Homo sapiens: one gene and its partners. The protein of the gene in region 1 purifies or fractionates together with the protein of each later gene. This does not show direct contact. Each region holds a gene or a part of one and is shown in the gene's direction. Other genes may lie near its edges. The genes, in order: VSIG1, SLC35F2, PPP2R5E, ABCB8, DAGLB, TNPO2 and TNPO3.

Region 1 (4,057 bases):
AAACTGAGGGAAGTGAATTAAATGAACTGTAAGGCCTTCCAGTAGATTTTATGAAAAATTAGTCTCACCAGACTAAGACAATACAGTTTATTGAACAATAACAATCACTTGAATAATATACATTTACATGAAACCAACAAAACATGTACATAGAAGGTGTGTATTATGAAGGGACCTCAGGAATTACCTAATCCAGTGATTTCCCAGCTTCAGTCATTCATGTACCATCTACATGATTTTTGTCATATTTGTGTATCACCAGCACTATTTGTTATTTAATGTTATTTTCTGTATTGACTTGTTTTCTTAAAATCTTAAAAAATATCTACCTTAATCTACCCTATGCAACAATATTCAGGAAGTCATAGATTTAATGTGCTAGATTTTTCTGTTTCTAATACACATTGAAATTTGTAAGTTTTCATTTATATACTACCTAAAATCAACTTAAATGCCTATACTTGGTAAATACATATCATACTTTGGAAAACATTACTCTCTTTTCTCATTCAGATGTGGAAAGTAAAGGTTGGAGAGATTAAATAACTTTGTTTCTTATCTAAAACCAGGCTGCCATGGAGGCATGACTAGAGGCCACCTCCCCTAACTATATCACAGTGAGGGGCAGAGCTGTGACTAACTCAAGCCACCTGACCCCTAGACCAGGACCCTTTCCACCACATCATGCTGCTCCCACAGTTGCCATTATGATCTAAGTATCTATGCTCTTTAATAGAAATGGGACTAGAATCCAGATCTTAAGTTTAATAAGTTATAATAATAATAAATGAGCCCTTGTGGCTTCAGATGGGTCACTTAATCTCTCTGGGTCTGAGATGCCTTATTTGTTTAAATGACAGAAGAATTCCAGTTCTGCCTTCTGCCACATGGGGAGAAAGATGGTAGCTATCATTGGCTGAGCACTTCCGAGGTCCTTTACTAGATTTCTTAGTTTCATCTTCACAACACCACTATAAAGGGATGGGACCAGATGATTTCTAAGATGCTTTTCCGCTTTGCTTCTAATAAACAAAACAAACCCAAGTTTGTCTATCCAAAAGAGTAGGTGTGTCTAAAAGGAGCATGAACATTTGAACATTTAAGGAAACCAGATAGTCTCACTGGGTAAGGTAAATTCAAATTTTAAGAAGTTTATAAAATGGTAAAAAAAAAAAAATGATGGTTTTGGTTTCCCATCAGACATTTGTGTTCTACATAATGAGTTTCTCTCAGGTGGATTCATTAAGTGAGCATCTTGATCTCCTAGCCCAAGCTTAGGTGTTGAATCCTGTCAGCTCCAGCTGCCTCCTCCTCTGTAAGATAGGCATACTAATCCCTGCCCTGATGACATCACAGAGCTGCTCTGAGGGCCAAATGCGCAGCTGTGAGCAAACTAAAGTGCCCCACTGAGTTGAGAAACCTTGGCCACAGGGACCTGTTCCTGGTGGGGGGAAGATGCTGCTTCTTTATCAAAGGTAATGTGTTTAGAAGAAGCTTTCAGGTAGCTTATCCTAGTCCTGGACTCTCTCCAGTTCTCACTTCTGTTATTTTTCTGTCTAGATTTACTTTTCTCAAGGTGGACAAGCTGTAGCCATCGGGCAATTTAAAGATCGAATTACAGGGTCCAACGATCCAGGTAATGCATCTATCACTATCTCGCATATGCAGCCAGCAGACAGTGGAATTTACATCTGCGATGTTAACAACCCCCCAGACTTTCTCGGCCAAAACCAAGGCATCCTCAACGTCAGTGTGTTAGGTATGAGCACTTTTTTCTGCTTTTTCTTTTCTTGGAAAAAGTTAGGACACTGAATGAGCCAGGACAGTGAGTTATGATGCCAATTAAGTCTCTGTAGGTAAATATACTCCCTAATATTTTCATTATCAGGGAAATAGAGACAAGCCACCAGCCCAACCAAAACAGTAACACTGAGAAATCACTCATAAAACATGCAGAACAATTGTGCAAACGGGCTGCCAAAATGACAGCAGTAGATGACCCAACCTCCAGTGATCCCTATCTCTGAGGGATGGAATGAGAACAGATGAGACAATCCACTGTCCCACAAAATGATCACTAGCAACTCTTTTAGAGGAAACCTCCATTTACAGCCAGATCTACCTGGGGGAGACTACTGTCAACTTATTATTCCTTTTAAGCTCGACACAATTCCCACCATTAAATTATTCTTTTAAATAAAGACAGGAGAGTCCCTTTTTTAAAATGCTAATGTTATTTGGAAAAAGGACTGAAATTAATCTAGTGTTGAGAATCAACATATTTACATACAAATATTCATTATATGATATTGGGCAAGCCGTATCTGCTCTTAAAATGAATTTGGAATCTCATTTGTTCAGTATTTATTGAGTTACAGTGATGGAGGTGTTGTTTTTGCCCTTGGGAAGCTCCCAATTTTGGCCATTTCTAGAAGTCCTTACAATCTCTGTCTGAGAGGACAATGTGGGCTAAACTTCCATCTGCAGGCTGGTATTGGGAAGTATCGAAGCAAGGGATGAAAGGGCTGCCAATCCTCAACTCTTACAGACAGACCAGTTGAGATGAGCATTTTCCCACTTCTAGGTAGCCCCAAATGAAGCTGATCTAGTCATTGCTGCTCTCAAGCTGTGTGCACACATCACAAGAAAGGAGGAACTACATCAAATCAGTGACTTAATAGTTGAGTAGCTTGGAAAAGCAGCAATTGGTAACAAGGTGCATACCCAAGAGAACTGTTTACAGTTGTCCTGGCTTGCCACTCAGGTAATGCCACAAAGGAACCAGCTGACATTTACTGTGAGGTTTGCCACTGCATCTACCCACCTGGGAAAGAGGGAAAGGTACCTAAGAGCTATTTTTTAAGAGTGGGTTAGCTTAATCAATCATATTTTTATCTTACTGAGTTCTGTGCCAGGAATTGGGGTACAGGAACAGACAAGAGAAGTATTACTCAAGCAAATTCCTGGGAGAGTTTCTGTTTCAGTTTGGAAGACTAGTGTATTAGTCTATTCTTGCATTGCTGTAAAGAAATACCTGAGACTGGGTAATTTATAAGTAAAAGAGGTTTAATTGTCTCACGGTTCTGCAGGCTGTACAGGAAGCATAGCAGCTTCTTGGGAAGCCTCAGGAAACTACAATCATGGCAGAAAGCAAAGGGGAGGCAAGATGTCTCACATGGCTGGAACAGGAGGAAGGGGAGGGGAAGATGCCACACACTTTTAAACAACCAGGTCTTATGAGCACTCATTCACTATCACAAGATCAGCACCGAGGGGGAAATCCGCCCCCATGATCCAGTCACCTCTCACCAGGCCCTATCGCCAAAATTAGTGATTACAATTTGACATGAGGTTTGGGTGGGGACACAGATCCAAACCATATCAACTAGTTAGTTATATACATGGGAACTAAGTGATGTGCTATAAATGCCAAAGCATCAAACTGGCACTCAGAAGACCTGAGTTTTAGATCTTACTCTGTACTCAGTGACCTTATACAAGTCAGTCCACCTTTCTCTGACCATTGTGAGATGGGGTTATAATTTCTGCCCTGTCTTCTTTACAGGTTTGTTATGAACAGTTTTGTTATTTTACCTATAAAATGAAATACTGGAGATCAAAGGGGTTTTTAAATGTTCAAAAACTGGAGGGATTAGCTAATGATTTTCTGTTGCTTCCTGGTTCTGGGATGTTCTGACCAGAAACAATCTAAAGAAGCCAAGTCTCTTCATCTCAGAGCTTGGAAATAGCCCTGAGATAAAGTTAGACAAGAAGGTTAATATTCTTAAATTTAAAGCTCAGAGGATCCCAAATCAATTTCCATAAGAAGTTGAGGGTCACTTCATCTCAGAGGTGTTTTTTCCCATGAGTCTTTGTGTCAGATAGCTCTGTGTCATGACTTTTCCTTAAGCAGCCAGGATCCAGACAAGGTAAGAGGCAGAAGGGTCTGTGGATTTCCTTGTTTGTTTAGGAACTCTAAAAAATATTGTTTTTGTTAATTGGGCAAAGAACAAAGGCCTCCTCCAAATGTAGGCTTTTTGGAAAATTTGAGACTGCT
Region 2 (4,057 bases), on another chromosome or scaffold:
CATGCACTATTTGTCTTTCTGTGCCCTAGCTTATTTCATTTAACATAATGACCTCTAGTTCCATCCATGTTGCTGCAAATAATAGGATTTCATTTTTTTGTGGCTGAATAGTATCCCATTGTGTTTATATATCATATTTTCGTTATTCATTTGTCCACTGACGGACAGTTAGGTTGATTCCATATCTTTGCTATTGTGAATAGTGCTGCAATAAACAGATGAGTGCAGGTATCTCCCTTTGATATACTGATTTCTTTTCCTTTGGATAAATACCCAGTAGTGGGATTGCTGGATTGTATAGTAGTTCTATTTTTAGTTTTTTGAGAATCTCCGTACTGTTTTCCATAGTGGCTCTACTATACTAATTTACATTCCCACCAGCAGTATTTAAGAGTTCCCTTTTCTTTTTCTTTTCTTGAGATGGAGTTTTTGCTCTGTTGCCCAGGCTGGAGTGCAGTGGCATGATCTCGGCTCACTGCAACCTCCGCCTCCTGGGTTCAAGTGATTCTCCTGCCTCAGCCTCCCGAGTAGCTGGATAGGTGCCACCACCACACCCAGCTAGTTTTTGTATTTTTAGTAGAGATGAGGTTTCACCATCTTGGCCAGGCTGGTCTCGAACTCTTGACCTCAGGTGATCCACCCGCCTCAGCCTCCCAAAGTGCTAGGATTACAGGCGTGGGCCACCGCACCTGGCCTAAGAGTTCCTTTTCTATACATCCTTGCCAGCATGTTATTTTTTGACTTTTTAATAATAGCCATTCTAACTGAGGTAAGATGATATCTTATTGTGGCTTTGATTTGCACTTTCCTGATGATTAGTGATGTTGAACATTTTTTCATATACCTGTTGGCCATTTATGTCTTCTTTTGGTGAATGTTTATTCATGTCCTTCGCCCACTTTTTAATAGGATTATTTGTTTTTCACTCTTTAGTCATTTGAGTTACTTGTATACTCTGGTTATTAGTCCCTTGTTGGATTAATAGTTTGCAGATATTTTCTCCCATTCAGGAGGTTATCTTTTCACTCTGTTGATTGTCTTCTTTGCTGTGCAGAAACTTTTTAGTTTAATATAGTCCCATTTGTCTATTTTTGTTTTTGTTACCTGTGCTTTTGAGATGTTAGCCATAAAATCTTTGTCTAGACCAATGTCCTAAAGTGTTTCCCTGTGTTTTCTTCTAGTAGCTTTATAGTTTTGGGTCTTATATTTAAGTCTTTAATCCCACCTTGAGTTGATTTTTTTATATGGTGAGAGATAGGAGTTCATTTTCATTTTATACTAATACCATGCTGTTTTGGTTGCCCAGCATTGCTTTGGCTATTTGGGCCCTTTTGTGGTTCCATATGAATTTTAGGATTGTGTTTTCTGTTTATGTGAAAAATAACATTGATATTTTGATAGGGATTGCACTGAATTTATAGATTGCTTTGGGCAGTATGCTCATTTTAATGAGATTAATCCTTCCAGTCCATAAGCATGGGTGTTTCCATTTGTGTCATCTTCAATTTCTTTCATCAGGGTTTTGTAGCTTTCCTTATAGAGGTCTTTCACCTCCTTGGTTAAATTTAGTCCTATTTTATTTTGTGTAGCTGTTGTAAATGGGATTGCCTTCTTGGTTTCTATCTCAGCTAGTTCATTATTAGTGTATAGAAAGGCTACTGATTTTTATATGTTGATTTTGTATCCTACAACTTTACCTAATTTATTGATCAGATCTAAGAGCTATTTTGTGGCATCTTTAGGTTTTTCTGGATATAAGATCATGTCATCTACAGAGAGGGATAATTTAACTTCTTCTTTTCTAATTTGGATGCCTCTTATTTCTTTTTCTTGCCTAATTGCTCTGGCTAGGACTTCCAGTACTATGTTGAATAGGAGTGGTGAAAGTGGGCATCCTTGTTTTTTTCCAGTTCTTAAAAGTAAGGCTTTTATATTTTCCCCATTCAGTATGATGTTAGCTACTCCATTCCTAATTTTAAAATCAGGTTAGCAGGATTAATCATAAGTTGAGTTTGCTTTTCCAGTTGAAAGGAAAAATAAGGCCCTGGGTATTTGATTACACATTAGTTACAGTACATAGTTTCTCTAATTTTTAGTACACCATTCTTGGTCAGTCTTTAGCCACTCTCTTTCTGTGCTTTATCATGCTGCTAAACATACATACTGATGGCCAGGCGTGGTAGCTCACGCCTGTAATCCCAGCACTTTGGGAGGCCAAGGCGAGCGGATCACAAGGTCTGGTGTTCGAGACCAGCCTGGCCAACATGGTGAAACCCCGTCTCTACCAAATATACAAAAATTAGCCAGGCATGGTGGTGCATGCTTGTAGTCCCAGCTACTCGGGAGGCTGAGGCAGAAGAATCGCTTGAACCCGGGAGGCAGAGGTTGCAGTGAGCCAAGATTGCGCCATTGCACTCCAGCCTGGGAGACAGAGCAAAACTCTGTCTAAAAAAAAAAAAAAAAGAAAAAATACAGACTGATTTCTTTAATACTTCAACTTTTGTATGGATTTTCAACTCAAGAGGAAATATACAAAATTCTTAATAGAATTTATTTAGACTTTTGGGGTATATCATTTTTCCATATATATACCCAATGAATTAGTGTTCTTTCCTCATTGCATTTTGCTCTGGGTGGTGGTTTTCAGTCTTAGGAAGGGGAAAGTTGGGGAAGGTCACCAAAAACTCCATCCATACTTTTAAAATTTCTGTCAGAATGGGCTCCTGCTCTTTTTGGTCCTTCTGGGAACAGAGAGTGTATGAGATGCCTCTCACAGGGCTCTGTTTCCTATGATTGTCCTCACCGGACCTTACACTCAGTCACCTCTTTGGGCTTTGGACTCTTCTAGTATCTTAGGCTCTTTCTAGCTCTACAATTCTGAATCTGCTCAGTCCACCATAAATTTTACTATGTAATACTTGCCCACAGAGACAAGATAATGTATTAAATTTTAGCAAAATGAATTTCATTGAATAGCACACATTGAGAGGCTGTTGAGCAGATGCCCCTTCTGTACTTCCACATTTCATCATAGTCTTACGTTCCTCTGCTTCATACCAATATTGTAAGCAGTGTCTAGGGTCTGAATGGGGCTCTCTGTGGTATCCATGATGACCTTTTATTTTCTCCACTAAGTGGGACTATATGCAGAGTGGGGTGTAGCTGGATTATGACAGAGAAAAGCAAAGGTCCATTTCTCCTAAAGATCCAAGGATCCAGGTGGCTTATGTGCCGGGTGCTGTTGGCAGAGTCCCATCATTCACCAGCATACATGGGAAGGTTTTGTGCATTAGCATCTCCTTAGGTAACTTTCAGAAAAAAGATCATGAGGCCAGGCATGGCGGCCCACGCCTGTAATCCCCCGCACTTTGGGAGCCTGAGGCGGGCGGATTGCTTGAGCTCAGGTGTTCGAGACCATCCTGGGCAACATGGAAAAACCCCGTCTCTACAGAAAACACAAAAATTGGCCGGGTGTGGTGGTGAGTGCCTGTGGTGTCAGCTACTCTGGAGGTTGAGGCGGGAGGATCACTGGAGCCTGGGAGGTGGAGGTTGCAGTGAGCCGAGATTGTGCCACTGCACTCCAGCCTGGGCCACAGAGCGAGACCCTGTCTTAAAAAGAAAGAAAGAAAGAAAGAAAGAAAATAAAAAGATTATGAGAGGGTAATCCTCGAAGCACAGTTGGCAAAAGCCAGCAGCAAAGATGTGTATGTGAGGGGCACAATTCACTGCCTGTTCTTCCCTTCTAGTTTTCAGGACTCTACATCCTGTCCTTCACTGTCATCATGGTGGGGTTTATCCTGTACTGCTCCACCCCTACTCGCACGGCCGAGCCGGCTGAAAGCAGCGTGCCTCCAGTCACCAGCATTGGGATTGACAACCTGGGGCTGAAGCTGGAGGAGAACCTCCAGGAGACCCACTCTGCTGTCTTGTAGCTGGAGAAGATGGCGCACCCATCCCCCACCAGGATAAAGCAGAGCCTGCTGCCTGCTGAGGGGACACTTGGGGAAATAGCAGACTCAGAATGGACACTCTACAACCCTGGGTTGGATCCAGTGGT
Region 3 (4,057 bases), on another chromosome or scaffold:
AACCTTGTCCTCACATTGCCCAAGAGCTAATTCTTGTTAAGTATGGGCTACCATTTTGGCTGTTTAGCTGTATAGTGTCCCATAGCTAATAGCAACCATCCCAGCTTGCCAGTTATCAGCATATATTTTGGGTCAGCAGGACTGGTGCAGATCAGAGCTAGACAGATAATTCATATTGAACCACCCAACCTACATGAGGGCTTGATTTCATTTCTTTGGATAAGAATAATTTATATATATACACATATATATATAACATTTGTTTCTAGGGAAGTAGCTTCTGATTTTGATGAATTATGTGTTATTTAGAAAATAGAATTCTATGCAAATTCAGATGTCTAAGGTTAGTGCTATCACAGATCCTTATTTTAGGGTGAAATTGCTTTACTATTATACTTGCCTTTTTATTAAATGAAATTATCAAATGCCCACAGGCAGCTCTATTCTGGGTGCCAATAATTAGAAGGGCAGGCCAGGTGTGGTGGCTCACGCCTATAATCCCAGCACTTTGGGAGGCCGAGGCAGGCAGATCACCTGAGGTTGGGAGTTCGAGACCAGCCTGACCAACATGGAGAAACCTCGTCTCTACTAAAAATACAAAATTAGCCAGGTGTGGTGGCTCGCTTCTGTAATCCCAGCTACCCAGGAGACTGAGGCAGGAGAATTGCTTGAACCCAAGAGGCGGAGGTTGCGGTGAGCCAAGATGGTGCCATTGCACTCCAGCCTGGGCAACAAGAGCGAAACTCCGTTGCAAAAAAAAAAAAAAAGAAATTAGAAGGGCAAAGTTAGATTTTTTTTCTAGTTCTACCACCCCTCAGAAAATTATCTTGCCTTGAAATCTCTTGATGTGGAAATGAACTGTAGGTCATTTTCAGTTGTTCCAACTAAAAAAGGATACAGACAGTGTGCAGTACGAGAAATCATTCAGACAAAAGTTGTGCTTTTGCTTTCTTCATTCAGTATCCCATTTTATAAGACTAACTAACACACTCCTTTTTTTCTGTGCTTTCCAGGGCTATTGTGGCGTTGGTGTACAATGTGTTGAAGGCATTTATGGAAATGAACAGCACCATGTTTGACGAGCTGACAGCCACATACAAGTCAGATCGTCAGCGGTAACTTTTTAAAGCTTTTTTGTCAGCTGTGCATAAAGCTATTGAGTTTTTTCCTTGCTCTTTGCTGAAGTTGCCTAATTGTACCCCAAATCTTAAGCAGCACAATTTTGTTTACAGTCATGCATTACTTAACAACCAGTATATGTTCTGAGAAATGCATCCTTAGGCAATTGTATTGTGTGAACATCATAAGTATACAGTAATTACACAAACCTAGATGGTGTAGCCTACTATGACACACCTGAACTATGTAGTATTGCCTGTTCTTCCCAGGCTACAAACCTGTGGTGAATACCGTAGCCAATTGTAACACAAATCACTAGGCAGTAGGCCTTTTTCAACCCTGTTAAAATTTTATGGGACCACCGTGGTATATGTGGTCTGTGTTGACCGAAATGTTGTTATTTGGCACATGACTGTATTTATATATTCATTTTTGCACACTTATTAACTGTGTCTTTATTTATTTATTACTGTGCCACTGAGTAACAAAGCTTCCTGACACTCATTTTGATAAAGCCCGCTTTCTTTCCTTTCTTTAATAATATTTCACTTCTGCCTCAGGGTTAAGAGCCCAGCATTTAACTGGTATTTTAGGTTCACTTAAAGGGACCATCAGGTAGTTTGCTCTCTGGGATTCACTCCCACTCTGAACTTACTTGAAGTATAATTGGGCAGATCTTGTACTTCACTCCAATAGCAGGGGGAATGAGGCACCATTTATCTAGCTCTTGGGCCCAGGACTTACTAGAACCCAACAAATTTATTACAATTTAAAGATCAGTGAAAAGAACATGAAGGTTAATAGTCTGGTATTAACCAGAAATGTTTGAGACCATATGGGAGAACAAACCAGTGGAACTCTTTGCAATAAATGCTTATGGCTTAGTAAAAATCTTGTCCAATGCATTCTACTTTCCAAAAGATGTACTTGGGGAGATTATAGAAGTCTAGAGAGCTCTTAGTAGTTGCGCCTGTGGTTTGGCTTTGATCATCCATAAGCAGATGTCAGCTTTGTATATCATAAAGCTATGGACCTTAGAGGACCCAGAGATGTGTGCGAGTGTTCATACCCAGGGTCTTGCTGAACCTCTCTGGTTCCCTTGGTGCTTTGCTTTGTCTCATTTTTAGTCTGTCAACTTGCATTTTATTGATAAAAAGAGCAATGAGGGGAAAGGTTTGATGGCAGAGGGACCATTGCAATGATTTTTTTGTTTTAAGTTACCAGGGATGTGGTTTATGAAAACCAACTTAATTATGGAATGTGGTGAGTATTTAGCTGAGAATCTCAGAAGAGGCTGGGATTTTTTACCCAGAATATTGGGATTATTATCAATTATGGGATATGTTATTCCATACTCACAGTTTAAACAACTTTTTTTTTTTTGTTTTTTGAGATGGAGTCTTGCTCTGTTGCCCAGGCTGGAGTGCAGTGGCGCGATCTCAGCTCACTGCAAGCTCCGCCTCCCAGGTTCATGCCATTCTCCTGCCTCAGCCTCCTAAGTAGCTGGGACTACAAGCACCCGCCACCACGCCTGGCTAATTTTTTGTATTTTTACTAGAGACAGGGTTTCACTGTGCTAGTCAGGATGGTCTCGATCTCCTGACCTCATGATCCACCTGCCTCGGCCTCCCAAAGTGCTGGGATTACAGGCGTAAGCCACCGCGCCCAGCCCTAAACAACTTTTAATTCAGTATATTAGCGATTGTTGCAAATTATAAATTTATGATAACCCTCCTTGCCCCAAACTTAAAATCTTTAAAGGATGTTACTTAAAAAAACGGCCAAGGGTACATTTTAATACTGTGTTGCATCGTTAAAGGTGCTTTGTGCATAACATCTTCTCTGAAAGCACATTATTATTATCCTAGTTGAACCAGGATTAAATCCGTAGAATCTCATCAAGAATATTGAAGAACTTGGCTGGGCACGGTAGCTCACGCCTGTAATCCCATCACTTTGGGAGGCTGAGGCGGGCGGGTCATCTGAGGTCAGGAGTTCGAGACCATCCTGGCCGAATGGTGAAACCCTGTCTCTACTAAAAGTATGAAAATTAGCCAGGCACGGTGGCATGCGCTTGTGGTCCCAGCTACTAGGGAGACTGAGTTGGGAGGGTCAGTTGAACCCGGGAGGTGGAGGTTGCAGTGAGCTAAGATCATGCCACTGTACTCCAGCTTGGACATTGGAGTGAGACTCTGTCTCAAAAAAAAAAAAAAAAAAAAAAAAAAGAGAGAGAATATTGAAGAACAACTTATTTCCACTCAAATTATTTGGTTTGTATTTAGTGAACTTCAATAATAAAACTATTTTCTGGTTATTATCTAAACTAAATAGACTAAACCCTTGAAAAAGATGAGAATTAACTAAGGGGACCAGGAATAGATAAAACTATTATTTTATCTATTCCTGGTTGAGGTTGATTATGATATTCTGGCATATTACAGTTATTTATAATGAGTGTACTTTCTTAATGAGAAAATGGGGGCCAGGCGTAGTGGCTCACGCCTGTAATCGCAGCACTTTGGGAGGCCAAGGCAGGCGGATCACCTGAGGTTGGGAATTTGCGACCAGCCTGACCAACATGGAGAAACTCCATCTCTACTAAAAAATACAAAATTAGCCGGGCGTGGAGGCACATGCCTGTAATCCCAGCTACTCAGGAGGCTGAGGCAGGAGAATCACTTGAACCCGGGAAGGGGAGGTTGCCATGAGCAGAGATTGCATCATTGTACTCCAGCCTGGGCAACAAGAGGAATCCCAGCTCTTTGGGAGGCCGAGGCGGGCGGATCACGAGGTTAGGAGATCGAGACCATCCTGGCTAACATGGTGAAACCCCGTCTCTACTAAAACTACAAAAAATTAGCAGGGCGTGGTGGCGGGTGCCTGTAGTCCCAGCTACTCGGGAGGGTGAGGCAGGAGAATGGCGTGAACCCAGGAGGCA
Region 4 (4,057 bases), on another chromosome or scaffold:
AGTTGGGGTGACTGATGGCCTGAGGGGTCTGGGGGTAGGACCTTATCCTGAAGTAATGTCTCCCTCTTCTGCCCTCCTTATTGGTTCTTGTCCCATGCCAGACAAGACATCACCTTCTTTGACGCCAATAAGACAGGGCAGCTGGTGAGCCGCTTGACAACTGACGTGCAGGAGTTTAAGTCATCCTTCAAGCTTGTCATCTCCCAGGTCAGTGGCCCAGTGGCCCCCACCACGTCCACACACACACTTTCCCATGTGGATTCACCAGGCCAGCCCTGCCCGCCCCAGCCCTGATGTTGGGCTGACAGGCGCATGCTGACTCGAGAAACCCACTGCCTGTGAGGGCATGGGTGAGGGACCATGGAAGTTCATGGAAGGAAAGTGTAGAGGCAGTGTCCAAGGTCAGGACAGGCTGCTTCTCCACTGCTCTGAAACCGAATCTTCCCTGGAAAGCCTTCCCAAGCACTCAGACAAGAGCCTTTCCTGGCAAGAGCAAAATCACTTCGCCTGCCTTGTCCCCAGAGTGCCTGGATTGCTGACAAGCATTGAGCATGTGCAGTGGCCTACCGAACACAGATGCCCTCCCCTTATCCGCCCACACCGACTCTGACTGCTGGATCATGCCACACACTGGCCTAGGCAGTCACTGGTGTACCCCCATGCAGTTCTCTTTGTTCAGTTCCTAGAACAGAAAGAGAAGCAAGCTGGGATTTGTCTAGGGGAAGGATGCCACAGTTCATAGCATTCTCGCTCGGCCCCCTCAGGCCTGCTGCTCGCACCCCAACTGGCCGAGTTAGGGTTACGTACTGTGACCGGTGGACTGCCACTGGGCCTCCCAGGGGCCAAGACCTGGGCCTTGGCCGTGGGAGTGCAGAGCTACAGTCAGCTGACCCTTGGAAAAGTCCTTCCTGTCATGGTGCGGACGCCGTAGCCTCCCGCCTTCCCTCCCACTCCCTAGGGGCTGCGAAGCTGCACCCAGGTGGCAGGCTGCCTGGTGTCCCTGTCCATGCTGTCGACACGCCTCACGCTGCTGCTGATGGTGGCCACACCAGCCCTGATGGGAGTGGGCACCCTGATGGGCTCAGGCCTCCGAAAATTGTCTCGCCAGTGTCAGGAGCAGGTACCGGCATTCCTGGCCATCCTCTTCACCCTCCCCACACCGTTTCTCTTTCCACTCCCCGGAACTCCTCCCTGTCCCCATCCTGGACTCCTTGTCCTGTTTTCTGGACTCCTTGTCCTGTTTCCTGGACTCCTTGCAGATCGCCAGGGCAATGGGCGTAGCAGACGAGGCCCTGGGCAATGTGCGGACTGTGCGTGCCTTCGCCATGGAGCAACGGGAAGAGGAGTGAGTCCTGGGAGGGCGGAGCACAAAGCAGAGATGCCCCCCACACCCTGCCAACCCTTCGTGCCAGCCCAGCTGCCTCCTGAATGCACTGGTCTCTCTCACCAGGCGCTATGGGGCAGAGCTGGAAGCCTGCCGCTGCCGGGCAGAGGAGCTGGGCCGCGGCATCGCCTTGTTCCAAGGGCTTTCCAACATCGCCTTCAACTGTGAGTGAGCCATTTGGGGGCTGGAGGGGCGCTTGTGGGCTGGGGAGGAGCTGGGAGCAGCCAAGGCAGGCAAAGGCCCTCCCTTCATCTGCTGGCTGCCTGCATTCGCCTCGGGCCAGCTGCTAACTCTTGCAGGTAAAGGGAGGGTGCCGATGTCCCAACCCAGCTATGGGACTCCATGTGGAACGCTACAGGGCCACCCTCAAGGAGGCCATGGAGGCGTGCCCACCCCAACTTGCTCTTCCGAGGAGGAAGCCAACGCTGGGACCAGTCATGCGCCTCACCTGACTCTCCCAGTCAGCAGTGGCAGAGCAGGCCCAGGGCTGTTTCCTCTGCCCTGGCTTCGTCCTCCCTCACTTCCCCTCTCCTGCAGGCATGGTCTTGGGTACCCTATTTATTGGGGGCTCCCTTGTGGCCGGACAGCAGCTGACAGGGGGAGACCTCATGTCCTTCCTGGTGGCCTCCCAGACAGTGCAAAGGTAAGTGGGGGCCGTTCCCATTGCTACAGAGCCCCCTGCCGCCCTCCAGAGCCCTGCTGGGTTAGGGGACACGGGTGCCAGCCTTCTCTGGGGGCCGACTGCTGTGCAGCTCCAGGCCTGCCCAGCTTCCCCAGGGATGCATAGGGTGGGGAGAGAGAGCCCCTCAGGGCCCATAACAACCCTCCTGGCTGGGGCAGTGGCGCTGCAGCAGGCAGGTGCTTGTCATCTTCAGCCTTCCAAAGGACCCAGAAGTTTCCTTGACAGGCTTTTTAAAAATTTGTTTCAACTGTGGTAAAGTACACAAAACATAAAATACAGCATTTTAACCATTTTGAAGTGTGCAGCTCATGGGCAGTGGGTGCACTCACATTGCTGTGCGGCTGTTGTCACCGTCCGCCTCCAGAACTCTTACCTGGCAGAGCGGAAACTATCCCCATGACATGGGAATCCCCATTTGCCCTCCCCCAGCCCCTGGCACCCACCATTCCACTTTCTGTCCTTATGATTTGACAACTCTAGGGACGTCCTCTAAGTGGAGTCAGACTATGTCCTTTTGTGACTGCGTTTTGTCACTCCACATTGTGTCCTCAGCTTCCTCCGTGTTGCACCCTGTCCGAATTCCCTTCCGCTGCAGGCTGTGACATTCCATGCATGGAAGGACCATCCTTGACAGGCTGTGTGAGCTGCCCTTCCCCATGCCTGCCACTTCCAGGGATGACAAGCTGACCCCTGTCCCCACACACCCCACCCTTATAGCTTATTGCTTTGCGTTGGTCCAAAACCACCCGCTCAGCTGAGCCTCTGGGATGACCAGAGCTGATCACCAGACAGCTCAAGGCGGGCCTCCCCCCTCCTATCTCTTTCCAAGCTAAACACAAGCAGTTCTACATAAATATGTTATGGTAAATAATGAGATAGTAAATATGCTGTAACAGATCATCAAAGGGTGAAGACCCGTCTCCACGAACCGTGCATCACCTCTGCCACCCCATCCCTCCCCCCACGACCCCCCTGCTCTTCCACCGGGGCCCCCACCCCATTCTACTGAGGCATGTGTCCTCGCCCTGCTGCATGGTGCACCCCTGCGTGTGTGTCCGCCGGATCAGAACCCCTCACTGCAGGGTGTACTGTCCCAGGAAGCGGGAGGCGGACGGAGACAGGCTCCCATTTTCAGCCCCAAACCTGACATTCCACAGAGACGTTCCTCCCATTTCCGCAGCTGCATGGACACCCTCGCGTGCCCCGTTTCTGCTCGTGCTCCCTAATCTGAGCACCTTCAGACCCTTTCTGGTCCCGGGCTCAGGCCTCCTTGGCAGCCTCGCCCTCCTCCAGCCCAAGGAGCTGTTCTGTCGTGGCTTTGGAATTCAGATGCTCTCACTGTGATAGAGATGGGGTCTTGGGGGGCTGGGAGCTGTTCTGTCGTGGCTTTGGAGTTCAGATGCTCTCACTGTGATAGAGATGGGGTCTTGGGGGGCTGCCTCCACCACTGCCTGCCCTGCTCAGCGCTGACCCACTTCCCTTGACCAGAGTTTTGGCCTCTCTGAATGGGACGGTCGTTTTAGTCCTGAGGGCCCATAAGAAGCCCAGTGGCGGCTGGGTGCGGTGGCGCACACCTGTAATCCCAGCACTTTGGGAGGCCGAGGTGGGTGGATCGTGAAGTTAAGAGATCGAGACCATCCTGGCCAACATGGTGAAACCCCGTCTCTACTAAAAATACAAAAATTAGCTGGGCATGGTGGTAGTCCCAGCTACTCGGGAGGCTGAGGCAAGAGAATCGCTTGAACCTGGTAGGCAGAGGTTGCAGTGACCTGAGATTGCGCCACTGCACCCCAGCCTGGCAACAGCAAGACTCCGTCTCAAAAAAAAAAAAAGAAGCCCAGTGGCTCCCTTAATAAAATCACCCCTTAGCCCTCTGTGGTGGGCAGTGGTGGGACAGTCTCCCTGTGGGGAGGGTGGCTGCACTGTCCAGCCCCAACCCTCCCGCTTCGGGACCCCCACTTCCCCTTTAGGGCCTGAGACTCTGACTTTAC
Region 5 (4,057 bases), on another chromosome or scaffold:
GAGACAGGGTCTCACTCTGCTGCCCAGTGGTGCGACGATAACTCACTGCAGCCTGAACTTCATGTGTTCCAGCGACCCTCCCACCTCAGCCTCCCGAGTAGCTGGACTATAGGCGCTCGCCACCAAGCCCCGTTAATTTTTTTTTTTTTAGTAGAGTCAGGATCCAGGCTGGTCTTGTATTTTTATTTTAGTAGAGACTATGTCGCCCAGGCTGGTCTTGAACTCCTGGGCTCAAGTGTCCTCCTGCCTTGGCCTCCCTAAGTGCTGGGATTACAAGCGTGCGCCACCACACCTGGCACCTGCTTCACGTCAGGCGCTGTGCAAGGTGCCAGGAGCACAGCCATGCACGATGGACGTGGCTGCTGATTCTGCAGTCTCAGATCCCAGGAGAGACTCACACATCAGTGCACAGCGTCATCCCATCTTTGAGTCTCTGCTGGGCCTGCCTTGTCTGAGGATTAACGGCCACCTTCTTTGTCTGTGTTTTTAGGGTATTTCTCAAGCTGCCAGATACGTTTACCAACGACTCATCAACGACGGGATTTTGAGCCAAGCCTTCAGCATTGCTCCTGTGAGATCTTAGTTAACGTTTCTTTCCTTGTCCTCTTTGGAGCTGTTGTTTTTACCCTTCACCTCATTCTGCTGTCTGTCCTCTAGGAGTACCGGCTGGTCATAGTGGGCCACAGCCTCGGGGGCGGGGCGGCCGCCCTGCTGGCCACCATGCTCAGAGCCGCCTACCCGCAGGTCAGGTGCTACGCCTTCTCCCCACCCCGGGGGCTGTGGAGGTGAGCCTTTGTTTTCCTGCTCTAACAGCTTGCTACTTACAAGTCATGTGGTCAAGACTCATCTTTTTTTTCTTTTATTTTCCTGAGATGAAGTCTTGCTCTGTCGCCCAGGCTGGAGTGCAGTGGCGTGATCTCGGCTCACTGCAAGCTCCACCTCCCAGGTTCAGGCGGTTCTTCTGCCTCAGCCTCCCGAGTTGCTGGGACTACAGACACCCGCCAGCATGCCGGCTAATTTTTGTATTTTTAGTAGTGGTGGGGTTTCACCATGTTGGCCAGGCTGGTCTTGATCTCCTGACCTCAAGTGATCTGCCCGCCTCGGCCTCCCAAAGTGCAGGGATTACAGGCGTGAGCCACCGCACCCAGCTGAGGTTTGTGTTTTGAAGCGCTATTTCACAGAAGAAAGTCTGTCTAGCCTTTCTTAGACCTATGTGACCATACCTGTAATTTCCTCAATGATTTAATTCTAAGAGTCTTTTTTCAAACAGACTTTATTTTTTAGAGCAGTTTTAGGCTGACAGCAAAACTGAGCAGCAGATTGTAGGGATCTCTCATACCCTCCCTCCCCACAAGCAAGCACAACCTCCCCCATTCTCACAGCCCTGGCAGAGGGGTCCGGTTGTTGACATCCATGCGCCTGGTAGGCACATCGCCCAGAGCCCGTAGTATGCTGAGCACTCCCTCCGCCCTCTCGGGGGGCATATGCCCTGGGTGGGGACACATGCATAATGCACATGTTTAAAGACATTTTTATGAGTTTGAAAATTACTTTTTTTTTTTTTTTTGAGACGGAGTCTTGCTCTGTCGCCCAGGCTGGAGTGCAGTGGCGTGATCTCGGCTCACTGCAACCTCCGTCTCCCAGCTTCAAGCGATTCTCCTGCCTCAGCCTCCCGAGTAGCTGGGACTACAGGCGCCCGCCACCACACCCGGCTAATTTTTTGTATTTTTTTAGTAGAGACGGGTTTCACCGTGTTAGCCAGGATGGTCTCGATCTCCTGTCTTCTGACCTCATGATCCGCCACCTTGGCCTCCCAAAATGGTGGGATTACAGGCATGAGCCACCACGCCTGGCTGAAAAGTTTATATTTTTTTTTGCTGATTCCAGCATACTGACTGTTCTGTGTAACCTTTTGCCATGATTATAAAGGAAAATTATACCACTTTATTTCATTAAAATGAAATAAAGGCCAGGCGTGGTGGCTCATGCCTGTAATCCCGGCCCTTTGGGATGATTAAAAAGTATGTACGTAAAGAACAAAAAGAGCTTTTCTTCGCACACTTGGTTTCTTTGACATATAGTTCACACAGGAAAAAACAGGAGAATGTATAAGTGCTTAAATCTTTCCCTCAATAAAGAAGTGTTCAGAATAATGAATTGTTGCCTAGCAGTCTACAGAGGCAGACATTAATTTTTTAAAACTTAAATTTCAGTCGTCTGTTTTCTTGCTGTCTTTTTTTTTTTTTTAATTGACACAGAGTGTCACTCAGTCTCCCCAGCTGGAGTGCAGCAGCACAGTCATGGCTTGCTGTAGCCTCTGCCTCCTGTGCTCAGGTGATCTTCCGGCCTCAGCCTCCCAAGTAGCTGGGACCATAGGCGCACACCACCACATCCAGCTAATTTTTGTAAGGAACAGGGTCTTGCTATGTTGCCCAGGCTGGTCTTGAACTCCTGGGCTCAAGTGATCCTCCTGCCTCACCCTCCCAAAGTGCTAGGATTAAAGGTGTTGAGCACTGTGCCTGGCCTCATTTTCTTGCTTTCTCAAGAATATTCTCAAGTTTTGGGCTTGAAATGAGCAAGTATTTTTTTTTTCCATCGTCCATATCTGGAATCAACCGTTTCTCCAAGGAATATTGGTTCCTTTTAGCAGGAAATGGTATTTCTGAACTGAAATCGGGGCACTGGTAGTTCTCATTACCACAGGGCTGGTCATAATTTCCAGGCCTTTTCATTGGAAAGAGGTAGGAAAGGCTTTTGTTACACCAAAGAGAAAATGTAACTGTAGTGTATAGTGATACTTAAACATCAGGAGGCTGGGCATGTTGGGTCACACCTGTAACCCCAGCGCTTTGGGAGGCTGAGGCAGGAGGATCACTTGAGCCCAGGAGATCGAGACCAGCCTGGGCAACATAGACCCGGTTCCTTACAAAAATTAGCTGGACGTGGTGACGTGTGCCTGTGGTCCCAGCTACCCGGGAGGCTGAGGCAGTAGGATTGCCTGAACCCAGGATGAAGAGGTTGCCGTGAGCCGAGATCGTGCCACTGCACTCCAGTCTGGGTGACAGAGCTACACTCCGTCTCAAAAGAAAAAAAAAAAAAATTGGCCGGGTGTGGTGGCTCACACCTGTAATCCCAGCACTTTGGGAGGCCAAGGCCGGCAGATCATGAGGTCAGGAGATCAAGACCATCCTGGCTAACACGGTGAAACCCTATCTCTACTAAAAATACAAAAAATTAGCTGGGCGTGGTGGTGGGCGCCTGTAGTCCCAGCTGCTTGGGAGGCTGAGGCAGGAGAATGGCGTGAACCTGGGAGATGGAGGTTGCAGTGAGCTGAGATTGTGCCGCTGCACTCCAGCCTGGGAGACAGAGCGAGACTCCATCTCAAAAACAAAAAAGTCCTTTCTGTCACCCCAGAGGTAGAATGTGGTGGTTTTGACTGGTGTTTCCATTATGTCCATGGCTGGAAGGAAGCGTGTCTGTGTTCCTCTCCTCCTGTTGATGAAAGCCTGCACCTTTTCCCTGCTCTTCTGTCTCTGGTCGTGGCTGTTCACTTTCACCGCATGTCCTGAGATGACCCCGCAGTGGCACACACAGTCCTCCTCCTTCTCCCAGCTGTGCGGGACGCACTATTATGTGACTCGTTGTTGGGAGCTGAAGGCAGTTCTGTGGATGGGTGTTTGGAGGCTCCAGCCTCTGCCGGTGCAGGTTCTGCCGCAGTGAATCGCCTGTTGCCTCTGCCCCTTCATTTTTGCTGGGGCATCTTTTTTTTTTTTTTTTCTTTTGAGATGGAGTCTCGCTCTGTCGCCCAGGCTGGAGTGCAGTGGCGCGATCTCAGTTCACTGCCAGCTCCGCCTCCCGGGTTCATGCCATTCTCCTACCTCAGCCTCCTGAGTAGCTGGGACTACAGGCGCCCACCACCACGCCTGGCTAATTTTTTGTATTTTTAGTAGAGACGGGCTTTTACCGTGTTAGCCAGGATGGTTTCAATCTCCTGACCTTGTGATCCGCCTGCCTCGGCCTCCCAAAGTGCTGGGATTACAGGCGTGAGCCACTGCAC
Region 6 (4,057 bases), on another chromosome or scaffold:
TGACTTCTGGCTGGGTGTGGTAACTCACGCCTATAGTCCTAGCACTTTGGGAGGCCAAGGCAGGCGGATCACTTGAGATCAGGAGTTGGAGACTAGCCTGGCCTACATGGTGAAATTCCGTTTCTACTGAAAATACAAAAAATTACTTGGGAATTACAGCTGGTGGGCACCTGTAATCCCAGCTACTCGAGAGGCTGAGGCAGGAGAATTGCTTGAGCCCGGGAGGCAGAGGTTGCAGTAAGCCAAGATAATGCCACTGTACTCTATCCTGGGCAACAGACTGAGATTCCATCTCAAAAATAAAAAGTAACTTTTAGTCCTGCAAAAACCCCCTCCCAGGCCAGTAGTAGGATGTGGACTTCCTGAGCTCATTCTATGTGCCAGGCTCTTTGCTAAGTCATTGAAACTTACTGATCCAGGCTGAGCACAGTGGCTCACGCCTCTAATCCCAGCACCTTGGGAGGCTGAGGCAGGTGGATCACCTGAGGTCAGGAGTTCGAGACCAGCCTGGCCAACATGGTGAAACTCTATCTCTACTAAAAATACAAAAATTTGCTGAGTGTGGCAGCGGGCACCTGTAATCCCAGCTGCTTCAGAGGCTGAGGCAGGGGAATTACCTGAACTCGGGAGGTGGAGGTTGCAGTGAGCCAAGATTGTGCCACTGCACTCCAGCCTGGACTACAGAGTGAGACTCCATCTCAAAAAAAAAAAAAAAAAAAAAGAGAGAAAAAGAAACCTACTGATAACCTTAGTTAGGAGGCTGGTTTTCTTTATCTCTTCTGAGGGCTGGAAGCACTGAGGCACACAGAATGAGGGGGTGTGGCTAAAGTTCCACAATCCTCACTGTGTACCTACCCATTGCAGGGAGCACCTTTCTCTCGTTGAGTTTCCACCCTTGGGAAACACTGCCATCTCATGGCAGCAAATACCATCTCTGCACTTAACAGAACCCATATCCAGCTCTGTCACCAGATATGTGCACTGTCCTGGCACCTCAGATGCCTGCTGTATGTAACTCCTGGATATCTAATAGGCAGTACAAGCATCCCTGCCACCTTCCTGCCCTTACCTCCTTTCCCTCTCTCATCATGCCTGTCCTTACGCCAGGCCTTTGCACCATAGAGTCCCCTGCCTCAGATGCCCTTTCCCCAGAAACCTGGATGATTCCTCCCTCGCCTCCTTCACCTCCTTCAGGCCTTGGCTCAGATATCAAGATGTCACCTCAACGAGGCCTGCTCTGGCCACCCAATTTAAAGTTGCTACCTTCACCTACAGCCCTTTCTCACCATCTTTTCTGCTGTATTTCCCCCCTTAGTCCTTGGCATGTGGCCCCTCCCAGTTGTTTGTTTTTGTTTTGTTTGTTTTTGAAATGGAGTCTTGCTCCATCCCAGGCTGGAGTGCTGTGGCGCGATCTCTGCTCACTGCAACCTCTGCCTCCCAGGTTCAAGTGATTCTCCTGCCTCGGCCTCCCAAGTAGCTGGGATTACTGGTGCCCCCCACCACACCCAGCTAATTTTTGTATTTTTAGTAGAGATGGGGTTTCACCATGTTGGCCAGGCTGGTTTCGAACTCCTGACCTCAAGTGATCCACCCACCTCGGTCCCCCAAAGTGCTGGGATTACAGGCATGAGCCACCCATGCACGGCCCCTCCCAGTTTTTTTTGCTAATTTATCTTTACTTCATAGCTTGCTTCCAGCTCCCAAGGGTGAGGATTTTGTGTTTTGCTCTGTGCTGTGCCTCAGGGCCTGGAACAGAGTTGACTCACAGTAAGGCTCAGGGTGCCTACTGAGTCAAGGAGTACCCTTCTACCTATGTCAAGGCCAGGAGCGGTGGCTCACGCCTGTAATCTCAGTGCTTTTGGAGGCCAAGGCAGGAGGATTGCTTGAGGCCAGGAGTTTTAGGCCAGCCTGGGCAACATAGTGAGATCCCATCTCTACAAACAATTTTAAAAATTAGTTGGGCGTGGTGGCATGTGCCTGCAGTCCCAGCTACTTAGGAGGCTGAGGCAGGAAGATGGCTTGAGGCCAGGAGTTTGAGGCTGCTGTGGACTATTGATTGTGCCACAGCAGTCCAGCCTGGGCAACAGAGCTAATTCTATCTCTTACAAAGAAAAAAAAAAGGAGGGGGGATGTAGAGGGCGTACATGGGCTAGGGAACAGAAAGGCAGCACTGGGGGTGTCCAGTGGGAGGGGGAGGTGCTAGGCAGCCCCTGCCCAGCCTCAGGCAGCGTCCTTTCCCGGCCGCCCCAGGCATTCTCATCACCACCATCGCTTCCAAGGGTGAGCTGCAGATGTGGCCCGAGCTGCTGCCCCAGCTCTGCAACCTGCTTAACTCGGAGGATTACAACACTTGTGAGGTAGGCAAGAAGCCATGGATGGCCAGAGCGAGTACTGGGGGGCTGGGACCACCACCCACCACCCACGTTTGTCTCTCTGCCCCTCTGCACTCAGGGAGCCTTTGGAGCCCTGCAGAAGATCTGTGAAGACTCATCAGAGCTTCTGGACAGTGACGCCCTCAACAGGCCCCTCAACATCATGATCCCCAAGTTCCTGCAGTTCTTCAAGCACTGCAGTCCCAAGATCCGGTGGGTGCAGCTCCCTGGGGGCTTCCAGGGAGCCTGGAGTGGGCAGGGTCAGGGTGACCCACGTGTCTGCTCCCCGCCAGGTCCCACGCCATCGCCTGCGTGAACCAGTTCATCATGGACCGGGCCCAGGCGCTGATGGACAATATTGACACCTTCATCGAGGTGGGCCGCTGGGCTGGGGGTGGGCAGGGCGAGGACTGAGGGCCCCTACAACTGACCCTGTTCCTCCCTGCAGCACCTATTTGCCCTGGCTGTGGATGATGACCCCGAGGTGCGGAAGAATGTGTGCCGTGCCCTGGTGATGCTTCTGGAAGTGCGGATTGACAGGCTCATCCCCCACATGCACAGCATCATCCAGGTGTGCATGGTCAAGGCCAGCCCAGGCGGGCAGGCAGGGGGCCGGTGGCAGGGGTCAGGGAGCCACCCCCAGCCAGGCCAGGCCTCAGCTTCTCCCCCCTACCACAGTACATGCTGCAGAGGACCCAGGACCATGATGAGAACGTTGCCCTTGAGGCCTGTGAGTTCTGGCTGACGCTGGCCGAGCAGCCCATCTGCAAGGAAGTCCTGGCCTCCCATCTGGTCCAGTGAGTGCTGCTGCTGCCCACTGTCCTACCCCAGCTTCGACCCCTTGCTATGCCTCTGCCTTCCCTTCTGGTCACCTGCTGTGCTTCTCTCAGTCCACATCCTTGTCAGTTTACATTCAGTATATATTTATGTGTAAGTGGTAAGAATGCCACTTTTTGAAGACTTCAAAATTAGGTAACTGATAGGTGGAAAGAAATGAAAAATCAATGGCCACATGTGGTGGCTGACACCTGTAATCCTAGCACTTTGGGAGGCCGAGGCGGGCAGATCACAAGGTCAGAAGATCGAGACCAGCCTGGCTAACACGGTGAAACCCCATTTCTACTAAAAATATAAAAAAATAGCTGGGCGTGGTGGCAGGCGCCTGTAGTCCCAGCTGCTTGGGAGGGTGAGGCAGGAGAATTGCTTGAACCCAGGAGGCTGAGGTTGTAGTGAGCCAAGGTCGTGCCACTGCACTCCAGCCTGGGTGACAGAGCAAAACTCCGTCTCAAAAAAAAAAAAAAAAGAAATGAAAAATCAACAAAGGCTTCAGGGGTATGGCTGTATCCAGGAGCTCAAAGGATGTGAAAGGCATCTTTGTGGTCTCAGATCTGCTTCCCTTGTGTTGGCTTCATTCTTAGGCACAACCTTCCCTCTGGGTAGTGCTGTAGCCTTCTGTGCCCTTCCAGCTTAGGAACTTCAGAGTAAAGAAATTTTCGACCAGTGTTTCCAACAAAAGTCCTAAAACTGACCCTCCTTGACAAACTTGGATTGCTTGCCTCTCTCCAAATCATTTTTTTCTTTTTTATTTTGAGACAAGGTTTTGCTCTGTCATCCACGCTGGAGTGGAGTGTCAAAATCATGGCTCACTGCAGCCTTGACCTCCCAGCTGAAGCAATCCTCCTACC
Region 7 (4,057 bases), on another chromosome or scaffold:
TTCCTGCCTCAGCCTCCCAAGTAGCTGGGATATAGGCATGTGCCACCATGCCTGGCTAATTTTTAATTTTTTCTAGAGACAGGGTTTCTCTTTATTGCCCAGGCTAGTCTTGAACCGGCCTCAAGCAGTTCTCCCACCTCAGCCTCCCAAAGCACTGGGATTACAGATGTGAGCCACCACACCTGGCCATGTCACATTTTATTTTGCTGTATGTTTGGACCATGACTTTCTGGTACAACTTTCCCCCAACAGCTCTTAAAAAAAAAAAAAAAAAAAAACCCTAAAAATTAAAATACTTCATATATACAAAAGAATAAGTATGAACACTTACTATTTATTTATTTATTTTTGAGACAGAGTCTCCTCCCTCTGTCGCCCAGGCTGGAGTGCAGTGGCACAATCTCGGCTCACGGCAACCTTCGCCCTCTGGGTTCAAATGATTCTCCTGCCTCAGCCTCCTGAGTAGCTGGGACTACAGGTGTGTGCCACCACACCTGGCTAATTTTTTGTATTTTTTTTTTTTTTTTTTTTTTTTTGAGAGGGAGTCTCGCTCTGTCGCCGGGGCTGGAGTGCAGTGGCGCCATCTTGGCTCACTGCAAGCTCTGCATCCTGGGTTCATGCCATTCTCCTGCCTCAGCCTCCTCAGTAGCTGGGACTACAGGAACCTGACACCACGCCCGGCTAATTTTTTGTATTTTTAGTAGAGATGGGGTTTCACCGTGGTCTCGATCTCCTGACCTCGTGATCTACCGGCCTCAGCCTCCCAAAGTGCTGGGATTACAGGCGTGAGCCACCGCGCCCGGCCAATTTTTTGTATTTTTAGTAGAGACAGGGTTTCACTGTGTTAGCCAGGATGGTCTCGATCTCCTGACCTTGTGATCTGCCCACCTTGGCCTCCCAAAGTGCTGGGATTACAGGTGTGAGCCACCATGCCCAGCTCGAACACTGACTTTTTATAACTTGGTAATATAATGAGAATCTTTGAACCTACTATTCAATCTAAGAATACCTAATAAATAATTTGCATCTTTGTGCTCTCCCAAACCTGCTTATATACCTTTTTGTCCCACTGGAGATTTTAAATATCCTTTTAAAAAAATTATTCAAGGAAGACTAATACGCCCTTACTAAGTGTATTCAACCTCTCAACTGTACTCTCTTCACTAGAAACCCGGGAGGATTCCCTTCTTGGACCTTTTGGTCTGCTCTGATTTGCATCAGTTGTTCTTTAGATCTACTCCCTGTCATCTTGGGACTTGTCTTTACTGTGCTTTCTGGATTAGGTTAGCTGTTTCTCAAACCCCCTCAAATAACTTCTTCAGAAAAGATATAATGGAAAGTAAACTTGGAATTTTTGCATGCCTGAGAACTATTTTTATTTTGCTTTCGATCTTGATTGATGGCTCAGCTAGGTATTAAGTTGTAGGCTGAATATTATTTTCCTTCAAAATTTCAAAGGCCTTGCTCTCCTTTACTAGCATGCATCATTGTTAATGAAAAGTCAGAGAACTCTGAATTCTGCTCCTTACTATTACCTCCTCCTCTCTTCCCCTGAAATTTTACAGACCTTTGTTTAACTCTGGTATTCTGAAATTTCACAATGATGTGTTTAGGTATGTGTCTTTGATACTTGTTGAGCCCTTTCATTTTAGGTAGTACTTGAGTATCAGAAAAAGGATGGAAAAGATTTTTCACACACTAGAATAGGGTAGGGAACACATGGCTTTCCATTTGGAGGGGCTGGTGTGAACAAGAACATGGAGATTAGAAATGATACGACCATGACTTCGGGACAGAAAGGCTGATTTGCTTGACATATAAGGAAATAGAAATAAGATTGGGAAGATTGATGGATGTTGTCTCATGGAAGGCTATGACTTGACTGTTACACATTTAAAGTACATGTTCAGAAAGAGGCTATAATTGAAAGAAAGAAAGAGGCTCTAATTGTTTTCCTATTACATTTATCCATCACTATCTTCAAAGGATTGGTTCCAGGACCACCCACTACCCCTGCCCCTCTGTGCACAGTTTCCAAGAGATGCAGATGCCCAAGTCCCTTATATAAAATGGTGCAGTATTTGCATATAACCTATCCACATCTTCCCATATACTCTAAATCACCTGTAAATTACTTATAATACCTAATACAATGTAAATGCTATGTAAATAGTTGCTATAGGGTAATTTTTAAATTTGTGTTTTTCATTGTATTATTATTTACTTATATTTTGAATATTTTCTATCGATGGTTGATTGAACCCTAGGGTGTGCAGGGCCAACTGTAGATCACTCCTTAGTGATCATACTTCTTGCTTCCCTATTCCTGCTACCTCCCCAGCAACAGGATAAGACCTCGTCTAACCTACATGAAGCTGCTTCGGACTGTGTATGCTCAGCTCTCTATGCCATTGAGAATGTGGAGACTAACTTGCCATTAGCCATGCAACTTTTTCAGGGAGTGCTGACATTGGAGACTGCCTATCATATGGCCGTGGCACGTGAAGATTTAGACAAGTGAGTAATTGTTTAAGTCTGGAGCCCTGGGTTTACCTACAGTCTGGTCATTCTTTTAAGTCACTTTTTATTATTCGTCTGTCATTTGTGATTCTCAGTGATTCTGTAAAGTACAGATAGTGCTTCCTAAAGATGCTCTACTATGCTCTTCTGAACCTAGAGTGGCAAATTGGGTGCAGGGTTTGTAGAATTACCATAGAAAGGTAAGGCTTTAAAAGTTGGAGACAAATTTTAAAATATCAAGTGTGATTTGATGGGAGTTTTTATTCAAATGTTTTAATAATTGAGAATTTGAACTGACAAGTCACTTGCGTAGGAGTGTACGATCTAGGTAAAGGTGTCTGTCATGGGGATTGTGATACAGCATAGTAAATAATCACTAGATGTCCCTTAGACTGAGGAACCTTTTATTTATTTGATTAACTGTGCCTGTATATACTTATAATATCCAGATTTCTGACTCATTGTTCTCATTCCCCTGTCTTCTACAGAGTTCTGAATTACTGCCGTATTTTCACTGAACTATGTGAAACTTTTCTTGAAAAAATTGTTTGTACTCCAGGCCAAGGTCTTGGGGACCTTCGAACTCTGGAGCTGCTGCTTATCTGTGCAGGCCATCCTCAATATGAGGTAGTGTTTATGCTATTCAAAGGCCATTATTCTCCAAGTTGTGTGCTGCATATTATCTATATTTCATTACCTCGTGCCCAAATTTTTATTGTTGAGAAATTACAGTCTTGTTTTTAATTAATGTGATTTCATCTGTTTTGGAATTTTTTAAAAAAATTATATTTGGGTTTCTGCATTGTGTCCATTTCTGTTTTCTTACCTGGTTGGCTGGGCTGTTGTAGGCCCCTCAAGGAACTCGTTAGAAAGCAAGCCTTTCCAATGAACCCCTTGTCTAGCTTGACTTATTCTCTAGAGTGTTACAGCTAAAAAACACCAAATTCTAACTATACCTCCACAAGTCTTAACACCCCCAATTTTTCTCCAAATGATGGATGAGAATGACAAAGGGATTGAAAGGACTTAAGGGTCTCTGTCATTCAGAATCCTTGACATCCTACTTACCGAGGTTTGCTAGATTTTTTAAAATCTCATTTATTTGAGAAGTTTTACCTCTTTATAGTATAAGAAATGAGAAAGGGTCGGGGTTGGTGGCTCACACCTGTAATCCCAGCATTTTGGGAGGCCGAGGTGGGCAGATCACCTGAGGTCAGGAGTTTGAGACCAGCCTGGCCAACATGGTGAAACCCTGTCTCCACTAAAAATATAAAAATTAGTCAGGCGTGGTGGCTCACACCTGTAATATCCCAGCTACTTGGGAGGCTGAGGCAGGAGAATTGCTTGAACCTGGGAGGCAGAGGTTGTAGTGAGCTGAGATCGGGCCACTGCACTCCAGCCTGGGAGACGAGCGAAACTCCGTCTCAAAAAAAAAAAAAAAAGTGAGAAAGAAGTGCTCCCAAGTTGGGCATTGTTTTAAATAGCTCTGTTTTGGATCCTTGATGGGAAAAGGATGGTAGGGATCCTCTTACTGTGC

The links.
Region 2: the proteins of VSIG1 (region 1) and SLC35F2 purify together in Homo sapiens (co-immunoprecipitation; 3 studies listed by BioGRID and IntAct, with this or other methods). This does not show direct contact.
Region 3: the proteins of VSIG1 (region 1) and PPP2R5E purify together in Homo sapiens (co-immunoprecipitation; 3 studies listed by BioGRID and IntAct, with this or other methods). This does not show direct contact.
Region 4: the proteins of VSIG1 (region 1) and ABCB8 purify together in Homo sapiens (affinity purification with mass spectrometry; 2 studies listed by BioGRID and IntAct, with this or other methods). This does not show direct contact.
Region 5: the proteins of VSIG1 (region 1) and DAGLB purify together in Homo sapiens (co-immunoprecipitation; 3 studies listed by BioGRID and IntAct, with this or other methods). This does not show direct contact.
Region 6: the proteins of VSIG1 (region 1) and TNPO2 purify together in Homo sapiens (affinity purification with mass spectrometry; 3 studies listed by BioGRID and IntAct, with this or other methods). This does not show direct contact.
Region 7: the proteins of VSIG1 (region 1) and TNPO3 purify together in Homo sapiens (co-immunoprecipitation; 3 studies listed by BioGRID and IntAct, with this or other methods). This does not show direct contact.

Annotation. Positions count from the first base shown.
Region 1 is NC_000023.11:108,065,376-108,069,432, forward strand, and holds part of VSIG1 (V-set and immunoglobulin domain-containing protein 1 isoform 2 precursor), read left to right. Parts: intron 1-1,560; coding exon 1,561-1,759; intron 1,760-4,057.
Region 2 is NC_000011.10:107,792,490-107,796,546, reverse strand, and holds part of SLC35F2 (solute carrier family 35 member F2), read left to right. Parts: intron 1-3,746; coding exon 3,747-3,932; 3' UTR 3,933-4,057.
Region 3 is NC_000014.9:63,379,114-63,383,170, reverse strand, and holds part of PPP2R5E (serine/threonine-protein phosphatase 2A 56 kDa regulatory subunit epsilon isoform), read left to right. Parts: intron 1-1,013; coding exon 1,014-1,115; intron 1,116-4,057. UniProt on the Homo sapiens protein: The B regulatory subunit might modulate substrate selectivity and catalytic activity, and might also direct the localization of the catalytic enzyme to a particular subcellular compartment.
Region 4 is NC_000007.14:151,034,623-151,038,679, forward strand, and holds part of ABCB8 (mitochondrial potassium channel ATP-binding subunit), read left to right. Parts: intron 1-101; coding exon 102-207; intron 208-958; coding exon 959-1,120; intron 1,121-1,259; coding exon 1,260-1,345; intron 1,346-1,450; coding exon 1,451-1,548; intron 1,549-1,921; coding exon 1,922-2,027; intron 2,028-4,057. UniProt on the Homo sapiens protein: ATP-binding subunit of the mitochondrial ATP-gated potassium channel (mitoK(ATP)). Together with pore-forming subunit CCDC51/MITOK of the mitoK(ATP) channel, mediates ATP-dependent potassium currents across the mitochondrial inner membrane.
Region 5 is NC_000007.14:6,413,355-6,417,411, reverse strand, and holds part of DAGLB (diacylglycerol lipase-beta), read left to right. Parts: intron 1-490; coding exon 491-571; intron 572-657; coding exon 658-785; intron 786-4,057.
Region 6 is NC_000019.10:12,713,933-12,717,989, reverse strand, and holds part of TNPO2 (transportin-2), read left to right. Parts: intron 1-2,250; coding exon 2,251-2,357; intron 2,358-2,451; coding exon 2,452-2,585; intron 2,586-2,665; coding exon 2,666-2,747; intron 2,748-2,820; coding exon 2,821-2,943; intron 2,944-3,050; coding exon 3,051-3,169; intron 3,170-4,057. UniProt on the Homo sapiens protein: Probably functions in nuclear protein import as nuclear transport receptor. Serves as receptor for nuclear localization signals (NLS) in cargo substrates.
Region 7 is NC_000007.14:128,999,519-129,003,575, reverse strand, and holds part of TNPO3 (transportin-3), read left to right. Parts: intron 1-2,341; coding exon 2,342-2,517; intron 2,518-3,008; coding exon 3,009-3,147; intron 3,148-4,057. UniProt on the Homo sapiens protein: Importin, which transports target proteins into the nucleus. Specifically mediates the nuclear import of splicing factor serine/arginine (SR) proteins, such as RBM4, SFRS1 and SFRS2, by recognizing phosphorylated SR domains.